2 separate regions of the Homo sapiens genome follow, and region 1 is linked to region 2. Evidence: fine-mapped expression QTL. A gene starts in region 2. The other region holds a variant in brackets. All regions are shown on one strand. Distances are from middle to middle.

Region 1 (8,000 bases), 27 kb before region 2:
CCGGCCTTAGTGTGGTCCTGGTAGAGGGAGTAACAGGGATGAGCAGGCACCCACCAGGCCCCTAGAAAGGATGGCAGGTCCAGTGGGGAAATAACGCCCCAGTTCCTTCCATGGGACCTGCCCACCTGGGACTCGCTCCCCTGGAGTTCCATTTTCCACTCAGGGTCGAGTGGGCTTTAGTTCCATTTTAGATTATGATGAAAACATCTCAGCAGCAGCTTTGAAGCATATCATGGGGAGGGTCTGTGCCCCTCACCCAGAGCTGCCCAGGGCTGCCCCTAGCACTCGTAACCGCTCACTGTGTCCAGGCGTGTGCGCTCACCCTCCCTCCATCCATCTTAGGTTTTCATGTGCCTCAAAGTCAGTTGCAGACAGCAACGCATGTTGCCCAGCTCCTGGGCCTGTGTGGAACCTGGAGCTCAGTGTCTGCAGTTTCTCCTTCCCTCTGTGTGAAATGTCCATGTGGGAAGGTCCACGTACCGAGTCTTGGCTGGACTCTGAGAAACCCAGGCGCAGTGTGTGCGGGGTGTGCCCGCCACCCCAGCATGCACTGAGGGGGGTTTATGCTTCTTCCGAAGGGACGTGCATTCGAGAGTCGTTAGGGAAACCGTCCCAGAGCCCTGGTGAGGAGAGAGCCTGGCGCGACCAACGCCAGGACGGGCACAGTCCCCGGGCCAGACCTGACACCGGTGCTCTGCCCATGCCTTCCATCCTAGGGGAACCTGGTGGCGGTGGGCACACACAAGGGCTTCGTGCAGATCTGGGACGCAGCCGCAGGGAAGAAGCTGTCCATGTTGGAGGGCCACACGGCACGCGTCGGTGAGGAGCCCGGGTCCCATGGCTGGTGAGCTCCCTGAGGCCCCAGCTCCGCGAGGGCAGGAGAGGCTCACCCCCGCTTCCACCTGGCCTCCAGGGGCGCTGGCCTGGAATGCTGAGCAGCTGTCGTCCGGGAGCCGCGACCGCATGATCCTGCAGAGGGACATCCGCACCCCGCCACTGCAGTCGGAGCGGCGGCTGCAGGGCCACCGGCAGGAGGTGTGCGGGCTCAAGTGGTCCACAGACCACCAGCTCCTCGCCTCGGGGGGCAACGACAACAAGGTACCCCCGCCCAGAGCCTGGGCTTCCCCTTCACCAGAAGCCGCACCCCTCACACTGGCAGGAACGGAAGAGCCTGGGCTGGGGCGGGCGCGGGCGCGGGGCCCACTCCACAGCCATCAGCAGGGCACCAGGCTTGTCCTTCCTGCTCAGCCAGTCCTGCCCTGTGGCACAGGGTGACGAGTGTGTGCCCCCAGGGGTCCTTGAGGGAGCAGCAGGAGGAGTGTGGGGTGGGGTGCCAGGGCAGGTCGTCACACCTGTGAGGACCGGCCTATGGGACCACAGGGCTGGGACAGCCCCGGCCTCACAGCCCCTGTCCCCCAGCTGCTGGTCTGGAATCACTCGAGCCTGAGCCCCGTGCAGCAGTACACGGAGCACCTGGCGGCCGTGAAGGCCATCGCCTGGTCCCCACATCAGCACGGGCTGCTGGCCTCGGGGGGCGGCACAGCTGACCGCTGTATCCGCTTCTGGAACACGCTGACAGGACAACCACTGCAGTGTATCGACACGGGCTCCCAAGTGTGCAATCTGGCCTGGTCCAAGCACGCCAACGAGCTGGTGAGCACGGGCGGCCCGGCCTCCCACCAGGCCTCAGGATGTGCGTCCTGCTGGCCCCTTACCTGCCACCTGAGAGCAGCCTGTGGGGAGATGGGTCAGAGTCGCTCTGAAGGGAGATGGGCGAGGGAGGCCGAGCGGGGAGGCAGGGAGTTGTGGGGGGCAAGGCCCCTGGGCCTCATCAGGGCCTCACCTGGGGCAAGACTTGGGGCCTCTGGGCCCCCATCGCAGCCACACCTGGCGGCTCTGTGAGGAGCCGGGGAGCTCCTATGGCTGCCTCTGCTTAGAGGGGAGGCCCAGGATGAAGCGGGCTCCACTGAGCACCCTGGCCTGCTCCAGCCACTCCGGGCGTGTCACCAGGACAGTCTCGGGGGTGACTTGCAGGTGGGGCAGAGGGGCTGTGGGCCCCGTTTGGGTCCTTGTTGGGCTCCAGCCTTTGGCGGTGGGTGGAGGGGTCCACCTGTGGCCTCCACACCTCCTAGACAGACTCAGGTGGCAGAGCCACATCCCAGCATCCCCTGCTCCTCCTGGGCTGGCTGGCGGCTCTGAGCTCTCACATGGGCTCAGGCGGGTGCATGTGAGGCAGCAGGCATAGCACCCGGCCTCGTTGCCCCTCACCGACCGCAGCGCCCCCTCCGCCCTCCAGGTGAGCACGCACGGCTACTCACAGAACCAGATCCTTGTCTGGAAGTACCCCTCCCTGACCCAGGTGGCCAAGCTGACCGGGCACTCCTACCGCGTGCTGTACCTGGTGAGTTCACGCCAGGCACTTCAAGGTGCCCCGGGATTCTGGACAAACTGCCATGGCCACCCCAGAGCACCCTGTCCTGTGTTCTTAGGGAGGATGGTGTGCAGATCTAAAACCCCGTGGGACCCAGCAGCAGGGGCCGGCAGGGCATCTGGTGCTGGTTGTGTTGCCAGCGTTGGAATGGGCTCTACCGAACTCCCCAGCCCTGCAGGTGCAGGCCCTGTCCTCCTGGAGGACCTTAGCTTCTTCATTTGTTTATTTTCCCCATAAAGAGGGGTGAAGAGGAAAGCCAAAACCAACTCACAGCTGACCACTCAGATGACCCTGTGAACGTCCTACACAGTAACTGTATGCACGTGGCTGGATGGGGGCCAGGAGGCGTCCTTGGCCCCACGTGCCCTCACTTGCCAAGATTTTGTTTCTTCCCTGAAAAACATGTTCTGTGCTTTCATCCGCGCATCTGACAGTCCCTCATCTGTGCAGAGTTGATGAGCCCCTCTTGCAAGGGGGCGTCCTTTGTGTTTTTGCAAAAATGCTCCAACCTTGGCTAGGTGCGGTGGCTCACGCCTGTAATCCCTGCACTTCAGGAAGCCAGGGTGGGAGGATCGCTTGAGCCCAGGAGTTCAAGACCAGCCTGGGCAACATAGCAAGACCCCATCTCTACAAAACTTTTTTTAAATGAGGTGTGGTGGTGTGCACCTGTAGTCCCAGCTACTCAGGAGGCTGAGATGGGAGGATCACCTGAGCCCAGGAGGTCAAGGCTGCAGTAAGCCAGGATTGCCCCACTGCACACTCCAGCCTGGGTGACAGAGCCAGACCCCGTCTTAAAATTAAAAAAAAAAAAAAAAAAAAGGCTCCAACCTTGGTTTCTGCTTGTGGTGGCCCCAGCCTGCCCCTCCCTCCTGGCTCCAGAGTCTGGGGGGCCCAGCCACCCGACACCTTGCTCCCCTCTCCTTCAGTCCCCCAGCACTGTCCCGAGGCACCTAGAGGCCCAGAGACATGGGGTGCTTCCCTCCTGTCCACAGGCAATGTCCCCTGATGGGGAGGCCATCGTCACTGGTGCTGGAGACGAGACCCTGAGGTTCTGGAACGTCTTTAGCAAAACCCGTTCGACAAAGGTAAAGTGGGTCGGTATCAGCGCCACTCGCCCCCGCCCCAGCCTGTCCCAGGGTCGTCCCTGTCCCCACTGTCCTCGGGCGTACCCTCCTCTGGGTTCCCCCACTTCCGAGCTTCCCTCACCTCAAATTCTGGGTCATGTGTCGGGGCAGTGTGGCAGGCCGAGGCTGAACTGGCACCTCCCAGCCCCTCAGGACCAAGCCCCAAAGCCTTGGGGACCCTCCAGGCAGCTTCCTCCCTGGGCCTGCGGCTCAGCGCATCTGCCATCCCCATGTGTCTGCAGGAGTCTGTGTCTGTGCTCAACCTCTTCACCAGGATCCGGTAAACCTGCCGGGCAGGACCGTGCCACACCAGCTGTCCAGAGTCGGAGGACCCCAGCTCCTCAGCTTGCATGGACTCTGCCTTCCCAGCGCTTGTCCCCCGAGGAAGGCGGCTGGGCGGGCGGGGAGCTGGGCCTGGAGGATCCTGGAGTCTCATTAAATGCCTGATTGTGAACCATGTCCACCAGTATCTGGGGTGGGCACGTGGTCGGGGACCCTCAGCAGCAGGGGCTCTGTCTCCCTTCCCAAAGGGCGAGAACCACATTGGACGGTCCCGGCTCAGACCGTCTGTACTCAGAGCGACGGATGCCCCCTGGGACCCTCACTGCCTCCGTCTGTTCATCACCTGCCCACCGGAGCCGCATGCTCTTCCTGGAACTGCCCACGTCTGCACAGAACAGACCACCAGACGCCAGGGCTGATTGGTGGGGGCCTGAGACCCCGGTTGCCCATTCATGGCTGCACCCCACCATGTCAAACCCAAGACCAGCCCCAAGGCCAGACCAAGGCATGTAGGCCTGGGCAGGTGGCTCGGGGCCACTGGCGGAGCCAGC[C/T]TGTGGATCCAAGAGACAGTCCCCACCTGGGCTTCACGGCATCCTTGCAGCCACCTCTGCTGTCACTGCTCGAAGCAGCAGTCTCTCTGGAAGCATCTGTGTCATGGCCATCGCCCGGCGGTCAGTGGGCTTCAGATGGGCCTGTGCATCCTGGCCAAGCGTCACCCTCACACTGGAGGAGGATGTCTGCTCTGGACTTATCACCCCAGGAGAACTGAACCCGGACCTGCTCACTGCCCTGGCTGGAGAGGAGCACAACAGATGCCACGTCTTCGTGCATTCGCCAACACGTGCCCTCACAGGGCCAGCGTCCTCCTTCCCTGCGCAAGACTTGCGTCCCCCATGCCTGCTGGGTGGCTGGGTCCTGTGGAGGCCAGCAGCGGTGTGGCCCCCGCCCCCAGGCTGCCTGTGTCTTCACCTGTCCTGTCCACCAGCGCCAACAGCCGTGGGGAAGCCAAGGAGACCCAAGGGGTCCAGGAGGTGGGCGCCCTCCATCCTTCGAGAAGCTTCCCAGGCTCCTCTGCTTCTCTGTCTCATGCTCCCAGGCTGCACAGCAGGCAGGGAGGGAGGCAAGGCAGGGGAGTGGGGCCTGAGCTGAGCACTGCCCCCTCACCCCCCCACCACCCCTTCCCATTTCATCGGTGGGGACGTGGAGAGGGTGGGGCGGGCTGGGGTTGGAGGGTCCCACCCACCACCCTGCTGTGCTTGGGAACCCCCACTCCCCACTCCCCACATCCCAACATCCTGGTGTCTGTCCCCAGTGGGGTTGGCGTGCATGTGTACATATGTATTTGTGACTTTTCTTTGGATTTGTTTTGTGTTTTTGTTGACTAGTCCTGGAAATGTTTGAGGCTAGACGGGGAGGGGCCAGGACCCACCCACTGCTCCTGGGGGATGAGGTCCTGGTTTTAAAGCCCCGTCATTTCAAGCGGGTCGATCTTCCACATTCACTGGAGAGACTCTCCCCACCTCTGTCTGGGTGGGGCGCGGACCCCTCACTGTGCGCCTGTGCAGGGGGTGCTGGTGCACGTGGCAGTGTGGATTTCCAGTGGTCACGGTCTTACTGTTTCAAGGTTTTTAAATAAGAAAACCAACCCTGCCTTCGCCCATGCCCGCCCCTGCCCGCAGTTGCCAAAGAGCCGCCTTGTCGCTGTGGGCGTCAGGGCTTGGCTGGCTCAGTGCACAACCCACAGTGGCCTTCAGAGGCTCCTCCTGGGACTGGGAACCGCCGCAGGGCCAGGCGGACGGCGTGAGGTTTGTGTTGGGGCTGGTTCTGCCCATGCTAGGGGGTGGGGGAGCTCCCAGGACAGACCAGCCTTGTTTCTCATGTAATGCAGTGACGCTGTCATTAAACACGTGGATTCATGTGTGGCCGGGACTGGCTGGCTCTAGGTCCCCGGCTCGGGTGGGGTCACACGGTCCTGCCCTAGAGTCCCCATCTGGCCCTGGAGCTGCAGAAGCAGCTTCTGAGGGGCTTCCCAGGCCTGCATTTCACAGATGGGGAGCTCAGCCCTCGAAGGCCGCAGAGACGCCTCCCAGGCCCGTCTGCCAGGGCGCCGGCCACAATCCTGCAGGGCCAAGGACTGGACTCCAGGCAAGTCCCTGCGCTCCAGCTGGACGGCCCTGTTCCAGGGAGGAGGTGCTCGGTTGACACCATCAGGGAGGGAGGGTGGGCACTGCTGGGCTGAGTTCACCCCCAGGGCTGGCCAGATGGGGCCAGGAGGGACAGAGCAAGGGGGGTGAAGGCCGTGGTGGGAGGGTCCCATGATGATGGGCCAGGGCTCGTGTAGAAATGGGGGAATTGGTTCCCCATGGCCCAGGACAGCTGAGAGGAGGTGGAGGGGCCCCAGGGGAGTGTACGTCAGGCTTTGCGGGGCACGGGGGCCACTCAGCAGCGCTGGGGCAGGTGCCTCTGCTGTCAGCTCCACCCGACAGGCAGACGAAGGCCAGTGGGGCCATCGCTTCCTGGGGCGACCCTGGCAGTGGTTGGGAGACGCCCAGATGGAGGGGGAGGCTGACCAAGGGCCCCGCAGGGCGGGCTGCAACTTTTCTGTTGATCCTGGAATGTAGCTGGTGCAGTGAGAGGGAAAGAGAATTGAAAAACTCAGGCTGCCATAGGTTCTGCGATGAGAGGTGCAGGAGGCAGGAGCCTGGCCCAGGGGGTGCTGGTGCCTCCCCGGGGTCTGGGCGGAGAGAACAGGAGGAATGGCTGGGAAGTGGCTGAGGGAGCCAGGAGGCCGGGGGGCCGGGGGCTGCAGGGGAGGCTGTGGGGGTCCTGGCAGCCAGGAGGCCCCAGGTGGTTTTGAGGCTCGCTCTTGCGCGGTGCCTGAGAAGAGGGTGAAGGAGCTGGGGCAGGCCCCATCCTGGGCATTGGAGATGATGAAACCGAGCAGACCTGGCCCATGTGGAGCTGGCATGGGGGACACAGCCCAGAGACAGAGAAGCTTATGAGGAAGTGAGGAGGTGGCGTCACAAGGGTGGGGAGGGGGCCTTGGGGAAGGGCGGCCTTGGATCAGAGGCTCACCACAAGCCTGGCATTTCAGCCAGGGCTGGAGAAGGCAGGGACGCCTGGGTGAGAGGCAAAGGGCACAGCCATGCAAAGGCCCTGGGGCAGGACGGCACCTGGTATGCGGGAGGAACAGAGTGAGGAGAGGAGGGCAGGGCGTGCAGGGCCTTGTGGGCCTCAGGGAGGACTTGGGCACCTACGCCGAGGGAGTGGAGCTCCTGGGTGCGTGTCCAGATGGGAAAGGCAGGGTCGTATCTGTGGGGACCTGACAAGGGCAGGGGAAGCGGAGACCAGGGTGCAGGCTCCGCCCCCACCCAAGGCCGGGCCCAGCCAGAGGAGGGGCAGGGCAGGGCAGGAGGTTTCTGGATGTTTGTTGGGTTTGGTTTGGTTTTGTTTTGTTTTGTTTATTGTGGTAAAATACAAAATCTACCGTCTTACAGTGAGGTGGCGTTCAGTACCTTCACCACGCCGTGCAGCCATCCCATCTGATTCCAGAACATTCTCATCACCCAGAAGGCAGCCCTGTCCCCATTATGTCACCTAGTCACCCCCAGGTCCCCCTCCCCAGTCCCGGCACCCACGAATCCTCTCCCTGATTCTGTGGATTGGTCTGTCCTGGACATTTCATAGAAGTGGGATCACAGCGTACCCTTCTGTGTCTGGTGTCTCTCACTGAGCGTGACATCCTCAAGGTGCATCCGCACTGTGGCCTGGGTCAGAGCTTCGCACCTCCTTGTGGCTGAGTCTCGTTCCAGCACGGTGGCGGCGCCGTGCTGATCCCCTCACCTTCACTGGGTGTTCGGTGTTCTCCGCCTCGGGCTGTCACAAATCGTGCTGCTGTGAGCCACTGCGTGCAGGTCTCATCCTGGGTGTATTTTACAAACGGACTGGATGTGAGTGGGTGAGGAGTGAGGAGCTGGGGTGACAGGTGCCTGCGACCCCGGCCAGGCACTGCCTCCTGCGATCGAAGGGGCAGGGGGAGACAGAAGCCCCTCAAGGGGGTGTGGAGATGGAGAAGCCAGACCCCAGGTGGGGGGTGCATAGAGCTGGGGGCTCAGGGCCACGGACCCCACCTGGCAGTGGCCCTGGCCTTGCCCACCCACACT
Region 2 (15,860 bases):
AACCCAGGAGGTTGAGGTTGCAGTGAGCTGAGATCACGCCACTGCCTTCCAGCCCGGGTGACAAAGCAAGACTCCGTCTCAAAAATAAAAAATAAAAATAAATAAAAAATTAAAAAAAGAAGAGAAAGAAGGGTAGTGAAAGTTCCTGCCCATGGCCAGGCGTGGTTGCTCACACCTGTAATCCCAGCACTGTGGGGGGCTGAGACAGGCAGATCACTTGAGGTCAGCGGTTCAAGCCCAGCCTGGACAATATGGTGAAACCTTGCCTCTACTAAAAATTTAAAAATTAGCCGGCTTTGGTGGCACGTGCCTGTAATCCCAGCTACTCAGGAGGCTGACGCACGAGAATCCTTTGAACTCAGGAGGCGAAGGTTGCAGTGAGCCGAGATCCCGCTACTGCACTCCAGCCTGAGCGACAGAGTGAGACTCTGTCTCAACAACAACAAAACAAAAAAAAAAAAAAAAGAAAGAAAGTTCCTGCCTCACAGGCTGCTGTGAGGATAGAGTTCATGTGTGGCACCAGCAAAAGCTCCGTCTATTCTGAACCACTTCCTGCTTCCGCAGCTTCAAAGTGAGGACTGTTCCTACCTTTTCCACAGCTGTTTCTGCTACTTGGAATGCGCCCCTCCACACACTGCTACCCATCCGTCAAAACCTCAAAGTTAATGTCCTTCCTTCTGAAGCCCATTTGTGCCATCTGCCCACTCACAGGAGTGTTTGTGTCTGATTCTGAGGGTCGTCTCGGGATTGTGGGGGAGCTCCCCAGGACTTGTTAAAGGGCAAAGTGAGTCCTTAGCCACCAGCCCCAGACTTGGGGGTGAAATACAGAAGTGGGTGCCATTGCCAGGGTAACCTTCACTCAAGTCACCTGCTCAGGCATCAAGAGCGGCTGCCTGGGCTTCTGCTCCCAACAGACCCTCCTGACCCTCCAGGCCCACCCAGGTGGCCCCCACCTCTCAGCTCCCAGGGCAGGTGCCCTCCCCGAGGCGGGGAAGAGGGGTGACGGTGGACGCCTTGGTGTCCGGTTGGACCACCTGGTTCCCTGAGGTCTGCTTTGGAAAAACATAAAGCCTTCGGTTGCTGTTTCTGTTTGTTTTCTTGTTTTGGTTTGTTGTTGTTGTTTTTTGTTTTTTTAGACAGACTCTCGCTGTGTCTGGAGTGCAGTGGCGCGATCTTGGCTGACTACAGCCTCTGCCTCCCGGGTTCAAACGATTCTCCCACCTCAGCCTCCCAAGTAGCTGGGATTACAGGCGTGCGCCACCACGCTCGGCTAATTTTTGTACTTTAGTAGAGACGGGGTTTTGCCATGTTGGCCAGGTTGGTCTCAAACTCCTGACCTCAGGTGAGGAGGCCTCCCAAAGTGCTGGGATGACAGGGGTGAGCCACCGTGCCCGGCCCGCCCAGAAATTATCTTACGCGACTGTCAAAGAGCTTATCCAACTATTATGATCAAAGAGGCATTTGGGGCCCTGGGCTCCGCTCAGCAACCAATCCCAACGTAACCACAAAGGAAGGGACAGCCGGTCCCCTCCCTGTCTGCCGCCGCCTCAGGTACCCCAGGAATAGCCTGGACATAGGAAACATGAAACTCCAGTCCCCAAGCTGTGCCTGCTGCGGAGCCTGCCACCCTCAGACCACTGGAGATCCACTGCCTCTTGCAAAAAATGTCATCACCCAGATCCTGGGTCCAACCACCCATCCCAGTCATTGTTCCCAAGGGTGAGGAGGCACCCGCCTGCCCCTCCTGCCACCTGGAATTCCAAGAACTGAGCAGGATTCCTGGCCCTGCCTGCTGAAATGCCACATGTGTCCCAAATGCCAGGACGCAGCCGGCACTTCTGTGAGGGCAAGAAGAGCAGGGAAGGAGGCCGGCTAATCTTCAGGCCCAGGGTCCGGGAGGGGAGAGGAGGGCCGCTGGGAGGCAGCCCTGCAGTCTTATCGATGGGCACTGGGGCAGGGTGACCCAGCCCATGACGCCAGCCTCCTGCCCTCCCAACAGCCCTCTCTAATCAGGGCAGCTCCCCCAGACCTAGGGGGTCCCTGACCCTGGCCAGACAGATAGAGGCAATGCAAGAACAGGGCAGAGACCCCTGACCCTCCAGTCCCACCCAGGCGGCTCCCAACTCTCAACTCCCGGAGCAGCACCCTCAAACTGCTGACGCACCAGGTTGCCCTGGCAGAACACACAGAGAGAGAGGAGGCTCTAGGGGGCCTGACTGTCCCTCAGCCATAGCTGTCCCAGTTGGTCACCCTAATAGACGAGCTCAGGCTAGACAGACTGACAAAGGAGGCGCTGAGCAGTCACCACCAACCCTCCAGAGGGTTCAGGGTGGCCCGGGGGCTCAGACAAACAAAGGCATTCCCACTAGAAAGTCATGTAGTCAGATGGTGAGGGCCCCGCAGGTCAGACAGCAGCTCTGAGGCAGACAGGGGAGGCTGGACCAAGGGACAGACAGAGGGGATACGGGGCAGTTAAACAGACAGATGGGGGAGGCTCATGGCTCAGGCAGATAGAGAAGCCCTGCACAGTTGGACAGATGGGGGAGGCACTGCACAGTCAGACAGATGGGGGAGGCACAGCACAGTCAGACGGGGGAGGCTCAGGCCATGGGGCAGAAAGACGGGGGATGCTGGATGGTGGGACAGGCAGGGGAGGCTCAGGAGTGACACCACAGAGGGGCCACTGGGTAGTCAGACAGACGGGGGAGGCTCAGGCCACGGAACAGCCAGAGGGGTGAAAACTCAGCTCATGGGGCAGACAAACAGGGGAGACTTAGGTCCCAGGCAGGCAGAGAGAGGGGGCTGGGTGGTGGGACTGATGGAGGAAGCTCAGGCCATGGGCACAGACAGACAGACAGGGGAGGTTCGGGCCAGGGGACAGACAGAGGGGTGAAAACTCAGCTCATAGGGCAGACAGATACATAGGGGAGGTTAAGGCCGTGGACAGACAGTGCAGGGAAGCTCGGGCCACGGGACAGACAGACCGAGGGGAGACTCCGATCCTGAGGCAGGCAGACGGCGGGTGGTGAGTCAGAGGGAGGAGGCGCCCGGGTCGCGGAGTCTCGGAGGGGCTGCCCGACAGGTGGCGGGGCCGGGACGCTTACCGACCAGGTGCCAGGCCTTGCGCGGGCCGTAGCGGGCGCAGCAGCTGGCGGCGCGGTCGGCCTCGTAGCCCACGAGCGGTGTGCACAGCCCGTCGGCCACCTGGCCCAGCAGCAGCAGCAGCCCCGCGCCGCGGGAGCTGTAGGCGCGCACCGAGTGCAGGTAGAGCAGCAGGTAGGTGAACCACATGGACGCGCACAGGTCGTTGAGGAAGTGGCCCACGGCGTAGCTCAGCCGCGCCACCAGGGACAGCGGCCGCGGGGACGGCGCCGCTCCGGCCGCTGGGGGTCCCGGGCCCATCGCGGCGCCGGGCCCGCGCCCCCCACCCCCGGGCTCCGCGGAGGGTACCCTGGCCAGGCCTTCTTGGGTGCCGTGGGGGCAGGCGCCGGGGACCCCCACCACGCGCCGGGCACCCCGCGTCCCGCTCTCTTACGGCCGCGCCCTCACCCACGTCCGCCGCGTCCGCCCCACGCTCGACTCTGCAGCCGCCGGGCCCCAGAGCCGGGCGACTGCGCCGGGCGGGGCAGGGCGGGGAGGTTCCGGTGCCTGAGCCAATCGGAGCCGCGCCCCGGGGAACCGCAGCCAATCGCCAAGGAGAGAGGAGAGGGGCGTGGCCGCAGGGCTCGTTCCGCCTCTACGACGGGCGCCCACGCGGTCCTAGCGCCCGCCGGGTATGAGGGCGAACCCCGAGCGCGCCGCAGGAGTGGCCGGCACCCCCATAGACTGGGGAAGGAAATGGACCAGAGGGCACCGCCGGCTCCCACCCAGACCCGGCCTCCAGGCCCGCACCACCCCAGTCCACCCGGAGCTGGACAGCCCACTGCGGGCCGGGGTGGAGCGAGTGGGACGGGCTCTGGATTTGGGGTTGGGGGGAGGTCTGAGCCCGAGCTGGCCTCGGGGTCCGCTGACTCCCCGGCCTAGAGAGACGCGATCGGGCGCGGAGAGGACGCAACAACACTAATTAATTGGTTACTAACGGTAATGATGGGGGTAATCAACATAATAGTACCAGCTGGCCTTTAACGAGCGTTGCCTGCAAAGAGCCCCACGTGGTGACGCAAATTTCACTCTCATTTTACAGGCGAGGAACAGAGTTGCCCGAGGCTCGCAGTGAGTCAGGCGTCTGTGACTCCCAGGCCTGTGCGCGCGACCCTCCCCGTCCAACCAACGTCCTCCCACAAACGGGTCACCGGACTGAGGGTTTCAAGTTCCTCCAGGGGGTGTGTGCGGTTCCCCCTAACTCAGGCCCTACTCCTTCCAGCAGCATTTTCTCTTCTTTCCTCTTTTTATTTATTTCAGAAACAGGGTCTTGAGACGGGCGCGGTGACTCACGCCTGTAATCCCAGCACTTTGGGAGGCCGAGGCGGGCGGATCACCTGAGGTCAGGAGTTTGAGACCAGCCTGGCCAACAAGGTGAAACCCGTCTCTATTAAAAATACAAAAATTAGCCGAGCGTGGTGACAGGTGCCTGTAATCCCAGCTACTTTGGAGGCTGAGGCAGGAGAATCGCTTGACCCAGGAGGCAGAGGTTGCAGTGAGCCAAGACCGCGCCATTGCACTCCAGCCTGGATAACAAGAGTGAAACGCCGCCTCAAAAAAGAAAGAAAGAAAGAAAGAAACGGTCTTGCTCTGTGGCCCAGGCTGCAGTGCATTGGTGCAATCATGGCTCACTACAGCCTCAATCTTCAGGGCTCAAGTAATCCTCCTGTCTCAGCCTCCCAGGTAGCTGGGACTACAGGCACGCATCACCACATGTGGCTAACTTTTGTATTTTTAATTTTGGAGAGACAGGGTCTCACTATGATGCTTAGGTTGACCTCAAACTCCTGGTCTCAAGCAAGCCTCCCACCCTGGCCTCCAGAAGCTCTGGGATTACAAACATGAGCCTCTGCATCGGGCGGGTCTCCAGCAGTTTTCTTTCTTTCTTTCTCTCTCTCTCTCTCTTTTTGAGATGGAGTCTCCGTCTGTCACCCAGGCTGGAGTGCTGTGTTGCAATCTCAGCTCACTGCAGCCTCTGCCTCCCGAGTTCCAGCGATTCTCCTGCCTCAGCCTCCCGAGTAGCTGGGACTACGAGCACCCACCACCACGCCCAGCTAATTTTTGTATTTTTAGTAGAGACGGGGTTTCCCCATATTGGCCAGGCTGGTCTCAAACTCCTGAACTGAAGTGACCCACCCGCCTTGGCCTCCCAAAGTGTTGGGATTACAGTCACGAGCCACCGCGCCCGGCCTACAGCAGTATATTTGGCCTTGCAGTCTGCAGTGAGGTATGATTGCACCACTGCACTCCAACCTGGGCAACAGCAAGACCCCAGCTCTAAAACAAAACAAAACAAAACAAAAGGTCCTTGCAGTATGGAAGGAGAATCGTTGGATCCAGACTTGGTTCCACTGATTCTCTGCTGCTCCACTTGGGACAAGTCTTTTTTTTTTTGAGACGGAGTCTGGCTCTGTCGCCCAGGCTGGAGTGCGGTGGCACGATCTCAGAACACTGCAACCTCCGCCTCCTGGGTTCAAGAGATTCTCCTTCCTCAGCCTGCTGAGTAGCTGGGATTACAGGTGCCCGCCAACACGCCCGGCTAATTTTTGTAATTTTATTTTTATTTTATTTTTTTTTTTTTTTGAGACGGAGTCTGGCTCTCTCGCCCAGGCTGGAGTGCCCTGGCGCGATCTCAACTCACTGCAAGCTCCACCTCCCGGGTTCACGCCATTCTCCTGCCTCAGCCTCCGGAGCAGTTGGGACTACAGGCGCCCGCCATCGTGCCCGGCTAATTTTTTGTATTCTTAGTAGAGACGGGGGTTTCACCGTGTGAGCCAGGATGGTCTCGATCTCCTGACCTTGTGATCTGCCCGCCTCGGCCTCCCAAAGTGCCGGGATTACAGGCGTGAGCCACTGCGCCCAGCCTGGGACAAGTCTTTTAACCTCTTGGAGCTTGGGTCTCCCCTGATCTAGAACGGGTACAGGAGTTATATAATTGGCCTGCCATGGTGGCTCATGCCTGTAATCCCAGCACTTTGGGAGGCCGAGGTGAGAGGATTGTTTGATCCCAGGAGTCCAAGACCAGCCTGGGCAATGTGCTGAAACCCTATCTCTATAAAAAATTTTAAAAATTAGGCCAGGTGCGGTGGCTCAAGCCTGTAATCCCAACATTTTAGGAGGCCAAGGTGGGCAGATCACTTGAGCTCAGGAGTTCGAGACCAGCCTGCCCAACATGGTGAAAACCCATCTCTACTAAAAATACAAAAATAGCTGGGCGTGGTGGCTGTGCCTGTAATCCCAGCTACTTGGGAGGCTGAGGCAGGAGAATCTCTTGAACCTGGGAGGGCTGAGGTTGCAGTGAGCTGAGATCGCACCACTGCACTCCAGCCTGGGCGACAGAGCGAAGATCCGTCTCAAAAACCAGAACAAAACAAAACCCAAGGCTCAAACAGCCAAGGGGTCCACGGCCCCGGCTGCCCACGGTGATGCAGGTCACACACTGTTTTATGAAAACTAGACTGAAAATGGGCGGGAGGGGTAAAAGAGGTCAAGACACAGAACCTAGAAAGGAAGGAGGAGAGATAAGGGGCAGACGACTCGGGGAGATAAAGGGTTGAGGAGAGATAAGAACCTCAATTCCTTCCTCTCTGTTTGGCACGTTCCCACTTAGAGTCCTCCTGGCACGTTCCCCTTTAGAGTCCTCTGAGGGAAATGAAAGATGACTTTTTGAAATATTAGCCTAGGGACCAGGGATCCTGGCTCCCGCCTGTAATCCCAGCACTTTGGGAGGCCAAGGTGAAGGGGTCACTTGAGGTCAGCAGTTCGAGACCAGCCTGGCCAACATGGTGAGACCCCCGTCTCTACTAAAAATACAAAAATTGGGCCAGGCGCGGTGGCTCACGCCTGTAATCCCAGCGCTTTGGGAGGCCAAGGCGGGTGGATCACGAGGTCAGGAGTTCGAAACCAGCCTGGCCACGATGGTGAAACCCTGTCTCTACTAAAAATACAAAAATTAGCTGGGCGTGGTGGCGGGCGCAGATAATCCCAGCTACTCGGGAGGCTGAGGCAGGAGAACGGCTTGAATCCGGGAGGTGGAGGTTGCAGTGAGCTGAGATCGTGCCGCTGCACTCTAGCCTGGGGGACAGACCAAGACCCCATCTCAAAAAAAAAAAAAAATTACAGTAATTAGCCAGGCGTGGTGGTGGGTGCCTGTAACCCAGCTACTCCGGAGGCTGAGGCAGGAGAATCGCTTGAACCCAGAAAGTGGAGGTTGCAGTGAGCCAAGATCGCGCCACTGCACTCCAGCCTGGGCGACGGAGGAAGACCCTGTCTCAACAACAACAACAAAATTAGCCAGGTGTGGTGGTGCACACCTGGAGTCCTGGCTACTCCGGAGGTTGCTGTGGGAGGATCACTGAAGCCCAGGAAACGAAGGCTGCAGTGAGCTATGATCGCACCACTGTGCTCCAGCCTGGGTGACACAGTGAGACTCAGTCTCAAAACAAAAACAAAAAAACTAATGTTTTTCCCATTCCTCATCTCCTTTCATCCCACAAGATCCCTAGGAGGTCTTACACCACTTCATGCTCTATTATTTTATTTTATTATTAATTTTTATTTTTAGAGACAGGGTCTTGCTCTGTCACCTAGGCTGGAGTGCAGTGGTGTGACCACAGCTCACTGTAGCCTTGGCCTCCCGGGCTGAAGAGATCCTCCTGCCTCAGCCTCTTGAGTAGCTGGGACTACAGGTGCCTGCCACCACACCTGGCTAATTTTTTCAGAGATGGAAGTCTTGCTATGTTGCCCTGACTGGTCCCAAAGAGATGGGATTACAGACGTGAGGCACAGTGTGCAGCCTTCATGACCCCCTCCACTGCCTTTTCTTGTTTTTTTTGAGATGGAGTCTCACTTTGTCGCCAGGCTGGCGTGCAATGGTACGATCTCGGCTCACTGCAACCTCCACCTCCCGGGTTCAAGCGATTCTCCTGCCTCAGCCTCCCGAGTAGCTGGGATTACAGGCGCCCGCCACCACGCCCAGCTTATTTTTGTATTTGTAGTAGAGACGGGATTTCACCATCTTGGCCAGGCTGGTCTCAAACTCCTGACTTCAGGTGACCCGCCCGCCTCGGCCTCCCAAAGTGCTGGGATTACAGGTGCGAGCCACTGCGCCCAGCCCTTCATGCCTCTTTTACAGATAAGGAAACTGAGTTTCACAAAGACGGGCATGGGCATGGGACTGTGGCGGGCATGGGACTAACAAGAGGCAGATGTGGGATTTGAACTCAGCTCCACGTGACCTCTTTATGTGCTGGCTGCGGAATGCCACCTGAGTGTGGAGGAACAGGTGCCTCACTGTCCACTGCTTTTTCAGCCTCCTTTGTAGGTCGAGAATCAGGCACAATCCCGCCTCCCTTTGGAGAAGATCCAGCGGAGGAGGCAGGGTGTGGTTAAAGCGCCAACACATCTCTGCATTCTTGTCCTTTTGCTGTTGTGGTGGTTGTTGTTTGAGACTGAGTCTTGCTCTGTCGCCCAGGCTGGGGTGGAGTAGCACGATCTCGGCTCACCGCAACCTCCACCTCCCGGGTTCAAGCGATTCTCCTGCCTCAGCCTCCCAAGTAACTGGGCTTACAGGCACCTGCCACCACGCTCGGCTAATTTTTTGTATTTTTTAGTAGAGACGGGGTTTCGCCATGTTGCTGTTTCGCCATGTTGTGGGTCGGTTCTCGAAATTCCTGACCTCCCAAAGTGCTGAGATCACAGGCATGAATCACCATACCCAACGTAGTTTTTTTGTTTTTGTTTTTGAAGACAGAGTCTTGCTTTGTCACCTAGGCTGGAGTGCAATGGCGCAGTCTCCGCTCACTGCAACCTCTGCCTCCTGGGTTCAAGCAGTTCTGTATCAGCCTCCCGAGTAGCTGGGACTACAGGCGAGCGCCACCACCCCCAGATAATTTTTGTATATTTAGTAGAGATGGTTTTCACCATGTTGGCCAGGCTGCTTTCGAACTCCTGACCTCAAGTGATCCGCCTGCCACAGCCTCCCAAAGTGCTGGGATTACAGGCGTGAGCCACCGCGCCTGGCCACCCAAAGTATTTTTGTTTGTTTGTTTGTGACGGAGTCTCGCCTGTCGCCCAGGCTGGAGTGCAGTGGCGCCATCTCCACTCACTGCAAGCTCCACCTCCCAGGTTCACGCCATTCTCCTGCCTCAGCCTCCTGAGTAGCTGGGACTACGGGCGCCCACGACCACGCCCGGCTAATTTTTTGTATTTTTAGTAGAGATGGGGTTTCACTGTGTTAGCCAGGAGGGTCTCGATCTCCTGACCTCATGATCCCCCTGCCTCGGCCTCCCAAAGTGCTGGGATTACAGGTGTGAGGCACTGCGCCTGGCCACCCAAAGTATTTTTAAATTTTTTGTAGAGATGAGGCCTCATCATTTTGCCTAGGCTGGTCCCGACCACCTGGCTTCAAGTGGTCCTCCCGGCTCAGCCTCCCAGAGTGTTGGGATTATAGGCATGAGCCTCGGCACCTGGCCTCTGTTTTTGTCCCTTTGAAGCCAGCTAATATTTCCTAGCCCTGACTTTGTGGGGTGAGCAGGAACTAGGTCTGACCTCTTGCTGAGGAGCCCCAAAGATTCTGAAGCCCCTGCTTTTGAGGGGAGACAGGGATGACCCCTCCCAGTTCCCCTCATCAGGGACAGGACTGGAGGAGTCAGACCAAGAAGGGCGGTTACAAGGTAGGTGAGGAGTTGGGACATTACCCTGAGGTCACTAGGGAGCCATGGTAGGGGTTAGAGGGAGGGTGGGACTGAGTCAGATTAAAAAGTCCAGTGGGAGATGAGGAAGGGCTTCTTCCAAATGAAGGCCTCAGCTGCGTGCGTGGGGAAGCCACAGGAGAGGACATGTGCCCCAACAAGAGTGGGGGTTGGACGTGAGGGTAAAGATCAGAGAAGGCCCTGTCTAGAGATGTCAGGAAGGCATGATGAAAGCTCAGGCCCTCGGGGTAGGACAGAGGAGTCAGGAGAGATCCTCACAGTCTGATGTCCCCAGCCCATCACCAGCAGCCCCCTGACGCCAAGCCTGCGTTCCCCCTCCCCTGGCCGGACATCGGATGTCCTGATGGCCGCAGTCCAGCCTCGGGGTGGGGTGGGGAATGTCAAGTACTAGAGGCTTCCTTGATCTTCTGTGACCCAGGCCTGGGGTGACAGAGGTGGGGGGGTGGGCAGTGAGGGTTCCTGAGGCTGCACTGAAACTTCCTTATATCTGAGGGTGGCCACGGTGGAGGCGGGGGAGCAGGGGAGCAAAGCCAGGATCAAATCTGGGCAGTCCCTGACAAGCCACCAAGCTTCAGTTGCCCTCTCTGTAAAATGGGGGTGAGGTGAGAGTAACCGAACCAAACAGAATACCAGGAGGCTTCAACCACACAACTTGGCCGGGCGCGGTGGCTCACACCTGTAATCCCAGCACTTAGGGAGGCCGAGGCAGGTGGGTCACCTGAGATGAGGAGTCTGAGACCATCCTCGCCAATATGGTGAAACCTCATCTCTACTAAAAATACAAAAAATTATCTAGGCCTGGTGGTGCATGCCTGTAATCCCAGCTACTCGGGAGGCTGAGGCAGGAGAATCACTTGAGCCCGGGAGGCAGAGGTTGCAGTGAGCCGAGGTCTGGCCATTGCACTCCAGCCTCGGCGACAGAGTGAGACTCCATCTCAAAAAAAACATTAGCTGGGCATGGTGGTGGCCACCTATAATCCCAGCTACTCGGGAGGCTGAGGCAGGAGAATTGCTTGAACCTGGGAGGCAGAGGTTGTGGTGACCTGAGATCGCGCCATTGCACTCCAGCCTGGGCGACAGAGTGAGACCCAGTCTCAAAAAAAAAAAAAAAAAAAGGATGGGGAGGGAGGGAAGGAAGGACGAACTCTTTTTTTTTTTTTTTTTTTTTTTGAGACGGAGTCTTGCTCTATTGCCCAGGATGGAATGCAGTGGCACGATCTCAGCTCACCACAACCTCCTCCTCCCAGGTTCAAGCGATTCTCCTGTCTCAGCCTCCTGAGTAGCTGGGATTACAGGTGCCTGCCACCACGCCTGGCTAAGTTTTTGTATTTTTAGTAGAGACGGGGGTTTCTCCACGTTGGTCAGGCTGCTCTCTAACTCCTGACCTCATGATCTGCCCGCCTCGGGCTCCCAAAGTGCTGGGATGACAGGCGTGAGTCACTGCGCCCGGCCTCTTCAGTCAGTCTTTGCGTGACTCAGTCTTTGCCAGGACCCTCCTGGCCTCAGGTCCTGTTCAGTATCTGGTCTACCATTGCCAGAAGGAGCGCATTCTGTGAGTCTTGTGATTTACGTTTTAACGTTGATGCTGGTCAGTCCTTGCGCTGAGAGCAAAACGGGGAGGAGCTGTAACGAAGCGCGGTGACCTCCTGGCACGGCAGGGCCTGGAACTCGGAGCTTTTTGTTGTTGTGTTGTGTTTTGAGACGGAGAGTCGCTCTGTCGCCCAGGCAGGAGTGCACCGGTGCGATCTCAGCTCACTGCAACCTCCGCCTCCTGGGTTCAAGCAGTTCTCCTGCCTCAGCCTCCCGAGTAGCTGGGAGTATAGGCGTGTGCCACCACATCCGGCTAAGTTTTTTGTCTTTTTAGTGGAGATGGGGTTTCGCCATGTTGGCCAGGCTGGTCTCGAACCCCTGACCTCAGGTGATCCGCCCGCCTCGGCCTCCCGAAGTGCTGGGATTCCAGGCGTAAGCCACTGTGCCTGACCAACCTCGGTACTCCTGACGTTTGGGACATCATTTTTTGTGGTGGGGGCCGTGTAGGATCTCTGGCCTCAACCGTGTAGATGCCAGTAGCACCCCCCTAGTCCGACAATGAAAAATCTCTCTAGACATTACTAGGTATTTCCTGGCGTGACAGAGTTGGCCCCGGATGAGAACCACTGAGCTAGAGCGTTTTCTGTAACAGGTGTTTGATTCTCCCTGGACAATCCCAGCCAGCAACGTCATAAAGGTAGACAAAGCAATTATCCCACTTAACAGATGGAGAAACTGAGGCACAGAAGTTGAGTAAATTGCCCAAGTCCCACAGTTGAGGCTCAGATTGCTTCCCTGAGTTCCTGAGGGCCCAGCAGCAGTGGGGTGCCCCTCCTCAGAGGCCTGAGATCCCTGTCCCACCAGCCCTGTGTTCTGCCAGCCCCGGGGCCAGGGGATGCTAGGGGCAGTAGCTCTCTTTCCGCTTCCCTGTCGCCTTCTCAGCTCTCCAGCATCTGTTTAAGCAATGCCTGTATGAAGTTGCCTCTATAAAAAGCCCCAGGAGGCTTGAGATTGTCCGTGGCCTGGGAGAACCAACCACACCCTGACTCTCCCTGGGTGGTGGAGAAAAGTCCACACATCCATGTTGATTAATATCTATTAAAAATTTAAGGTCAGGCGCGGTGGCTCATGCCTGTAATCCCAGCACTTTGGGAGGCCGAGGCGGGCGGATCGCGAGGTCAGGAGATTGAGACCATCCTGGCTAACACAGTGAAACCCCGTCTCTACTAAAAATACAAAAACTTAGCCGGGTGTGGTGGCGGGCGCCTGTAGTCCCAGCTACCCGGGAGGCTGAGGCAGGAGAATGGCATGAACCCGGGAGACGGAGCTTGCAGTGAGCAGAGATGGCGCCACTGCACTCCAGCCTGGGCGACAGAGAGAGACTCCATCTCAAAAAAAAAAAAAAAAAATTAATGGGGGCATGTAATCCCAGTACTGTGGTACTGTGGTACTGTGGGAGGCTGAGGCAGGAGGATCACGAGGCCAGGAGTTTGAGACCAGCCTGGCCAACATGGCAAAACCTCATCTCCACTAAAAGTACAAAAATTAGTCTCGCATGGCGATGTGTGCCTGTAACCCTGGCTACTCTGAAGGCTGAGGCACGTGAATCACTTGAACACGGGAGGTGGAGGTTGCAGGGAGGTGGAGGTTGCAGGGAGCTGAGACTGAGCCACTGCACTCTAGCCTGGGAGCTGGGCAACAAAGCAAGACCCCATCTGTACGAAAATTAAAATAATCAGCCAGATGTGGTGGTGCATACCTGTGGTCCCAACTGCTCGAGAGGCTGAAGCAGGAGAATCACTTGAGCCCAGGAGTTCGAGGTTGCAGTGAGCTGAGATCCGATGACTACACTCCAGCCTGGGTGACACAGCGAGACACCATGTCTCAAAAAATAATAATAGTAAAAAATACCCTTTATCTGAGCGATATTATTGAGTAAACAGAACTGGTTGCAGTTGAAGCTTACAGCATGAAGGCACTGGTATAATACACAGCAGAATAGGACCTCACATTTGTTTGCTTACTTTTATTATTATTTTTTTTTGTAGAGACAGGGTCTCACTATGTTGTCCAGGCTGGCCTCAAATTCCTGGGTTCAAGCAATCCTCCTGCCTCAGCCTCCCATAGTGCTGGGATTACAGGTGTGAGCTACTGCACCTGGCCAGGACCTCACTTTATTTATTTATTTATTTTTTTGAGACAAAGTCTCGCCATGTCGCCCAGGCTGGAGTGTAGTGGCTCGATCTTGACTCACTGAAACCTCTGCCTCCCAGGTTCAAGCAATTCTTGTGCCGCAGCTTCCTGAGTAGCTGGAGCTACAGGTGTGCACCACCATGCGTGGCTACTTTTTGTATTTTTAGTACAGACAGGGTTTTGCCATGTTGGCCAGGCTGTTCTTGAAATCCTGACCTCAGGTGATCGGCCCACTTTGGCTTCTCAAAGTGCTGAGATTACAGGCGGGAGCCACCACGCCCAGCCTATATTTTTATTTATTTATTTACTATTTTTTGAGAGGGAGTCTCGCTCTGTCACCCAGGCTGGAGTGCAGTGGCACGATCTCAGCTCACTGCAACCTCCGCCTCTAGGTTCAAGTGATTCTCCTGCCTCAGCCTTCTGAGTAGCTGGGACTACAGGCGTGCACCCCCATGCCCAGCTAATTTTTGTGGTTTTACTTTTTTGTAGAATTTTTTTTTTAACTGTGAATACACATTTTTTATTTGGTCATTTTTGCTTACAATTGAAACTCTGGGAATTCAAAATTAACATCCTTGCCCATGAGCTTCTTATAGACACCAGAAAAAGTTTCAACCTTGTGTTCCATATTGTTCTGCTGTGCCTTGTCCAAATGAACCTTTATGAGCCGGCTGCCATCTAGTTTCACGCAGATTCTCTAGAGTTTCAACTGTAAGCAAAAATGACTAAATAAAAAATATATATTCACGTTAAAAAAATTTTTTTTTTTTTTTTGAGACGGAGTCTCGCTCTGTCCCAGGCTGGAGTGCCGTGGCGGGATCTCCGCTCACTGCAACCTTTGCCTCCCGTGTTCAAGCTATTCTCCTACCTCAGCCTCCCAAGTAGCTGGGATTACAGGTGCCCGCCACCACGCCCGGCTAATTTTTGTATTTTTAGTAGAGATGGGGTTTCACCATGTTGACCAGGCTGGTCTCGAACTGTGGACCTCGTGATCCTCCCACCTCAGCCTCCCAAAGTGCTGGGATTACAGGTGTGAGCCACCGTGCCTGGCAATTTTTGTGTTTTTAGTAGGGACAGGGTTTCTCCATGTTGGCCAGGCTGGTGTCAAATTCCTGACCTCCAGCGATCCACCCACCTCGGCCTCCCACAGTGCTGGCATTACAGGCGTGAGCCACCGCGCCCAGCCCACGTCTTTATTAGGAATACGCACATGTGTACGTGTGTAGGCATGTGCTGTGGGTGGAGTCATGTCCCCACAGAATGCACAGGTTCCTGTCCTAATCCCCAAGGCCTCAGAATGTGACCGTATTTGGAAAAAGGTCATTGCAGATATAATGAGTTAAGATGACATCATTAGGGTGGGCCGTGACGCAGTATGACTGCTGTCCTTATCAAAAGAGGAAATTTGGGTGCAGACACGCACATAGGGAGAACCCCACATGAAGATGCAGGCAGACATCGGGGTGTCACTCCTACAAGACAAGAAAAGCCCAGGATTGCTGGCCAATGCCAGAAACTGGGAGACGCCAGGGACAGATTCTCTCCCCGCCCTCAGAAGGCCCCAGCCCTACCCACACCTTCCTCTTGGACTTCTGGCCTCCAGAACTGTGAAACAATAAATTTCTCTTGTTTAAGCCCCTCAGTTTGTCGTAATTATTACCTAGCAAACCAATGCAGTGTGGTGTGCGTGTGTGTGTGTGTGTGTGTGTGTGTGTGTGTGAGTGTGGCTAGGAAAAATTTTAAAAAGAGATGCGGCCGGGTACAGTGGCTCACGCCTGTAATCTCAGCACTTTGGGAGGCCAAGGTGGGCGGATCATCTGAGGTCAGGAGTTCAAGACCTGCCTGGCCAACATGGCAAAACCCCGTCTCTACTAAAAATACAAACATTAGCTGGGTTTGGTGGCACGTGCCTGTAATCCCGGCTACTCAGGAGGCTGAGGCAGGAGAATCACTTGAACCTGGGAGGCGGAGGTTGCAGTGAGCAAAGATCACGCCACTGCACTCCAGCCTGGGCGAATGAAACTCTATCTCAAAAAAAAAAAAAAGAAAAAAAAAAGGCCTGGCACAGTGGCTCACGACTGTAATCCCAGCACTTTGGGAGGCCAAGGCGGGTGGATCACAATGTCAGGAGATCGAGACCATCCTGGCTAACACGGTGAAACCCCATCTCTACTAAAAAATACAAAAAAATTAGCCGGGCGTGGCAGCGTGTACCTGTAGTCCCAGCTACTTGGGAGGCTGAGGCAGGAGAATGGTGTAAACCCGGGAGGTGAAGCTTGCAGT

Evidence for each region. PIP is the estimated chance that this variant, and not a neighbour inherited with it, causes the effect. A credible set is the group of variants that fine-mapping cannot tell apart.
Region 1: its variant is the best candidate, but not a certain one, in a credible set for the expression of MFSD12 in whole blood (INTERVAL, PIP 0.52).

What each region holds. Positions count from the first base shown.
Region 1 is chr19:3,530,998-3,538,997 of GRCh38, forward strand. FZR1 (fizzy and cell division cycle 20 related 1) reads left to right here. Exons shown (of 14, transcript NM_016263.4): 9 at 717-819; 10 at 914-1,098; 11 at 1,420-1,653; 12 at 2,297-2,401; 13 at 3,424-3,516; 14 at 3,798-7,337. The coding sequence ends at 3,839. It also overlaps a transcript of MFSD12 not described here. Among named protein-coding and RNA genes, the nearest start is that of TEKTIP1, 4.2 kb to the right of the region's middle. The variant C/T (reference allele first, on the strand shown) is at 4,389.
Region 2 is chr19:3,554,002-3,569,861 of GRCh38, forward strand. MFSD12 (major facilitator superfamily domain containing 12) reads right to left here and starts at 3,585. Exons shown (of 10, transcript NM_174983.5): 1 at 3,105-3,585. The coding sequence starts at 3,402. RefSeq lists silencers at 3,011-3,180, 3,361-3,430, 3,471-4,020 and an enhancer at 4,130-4,424.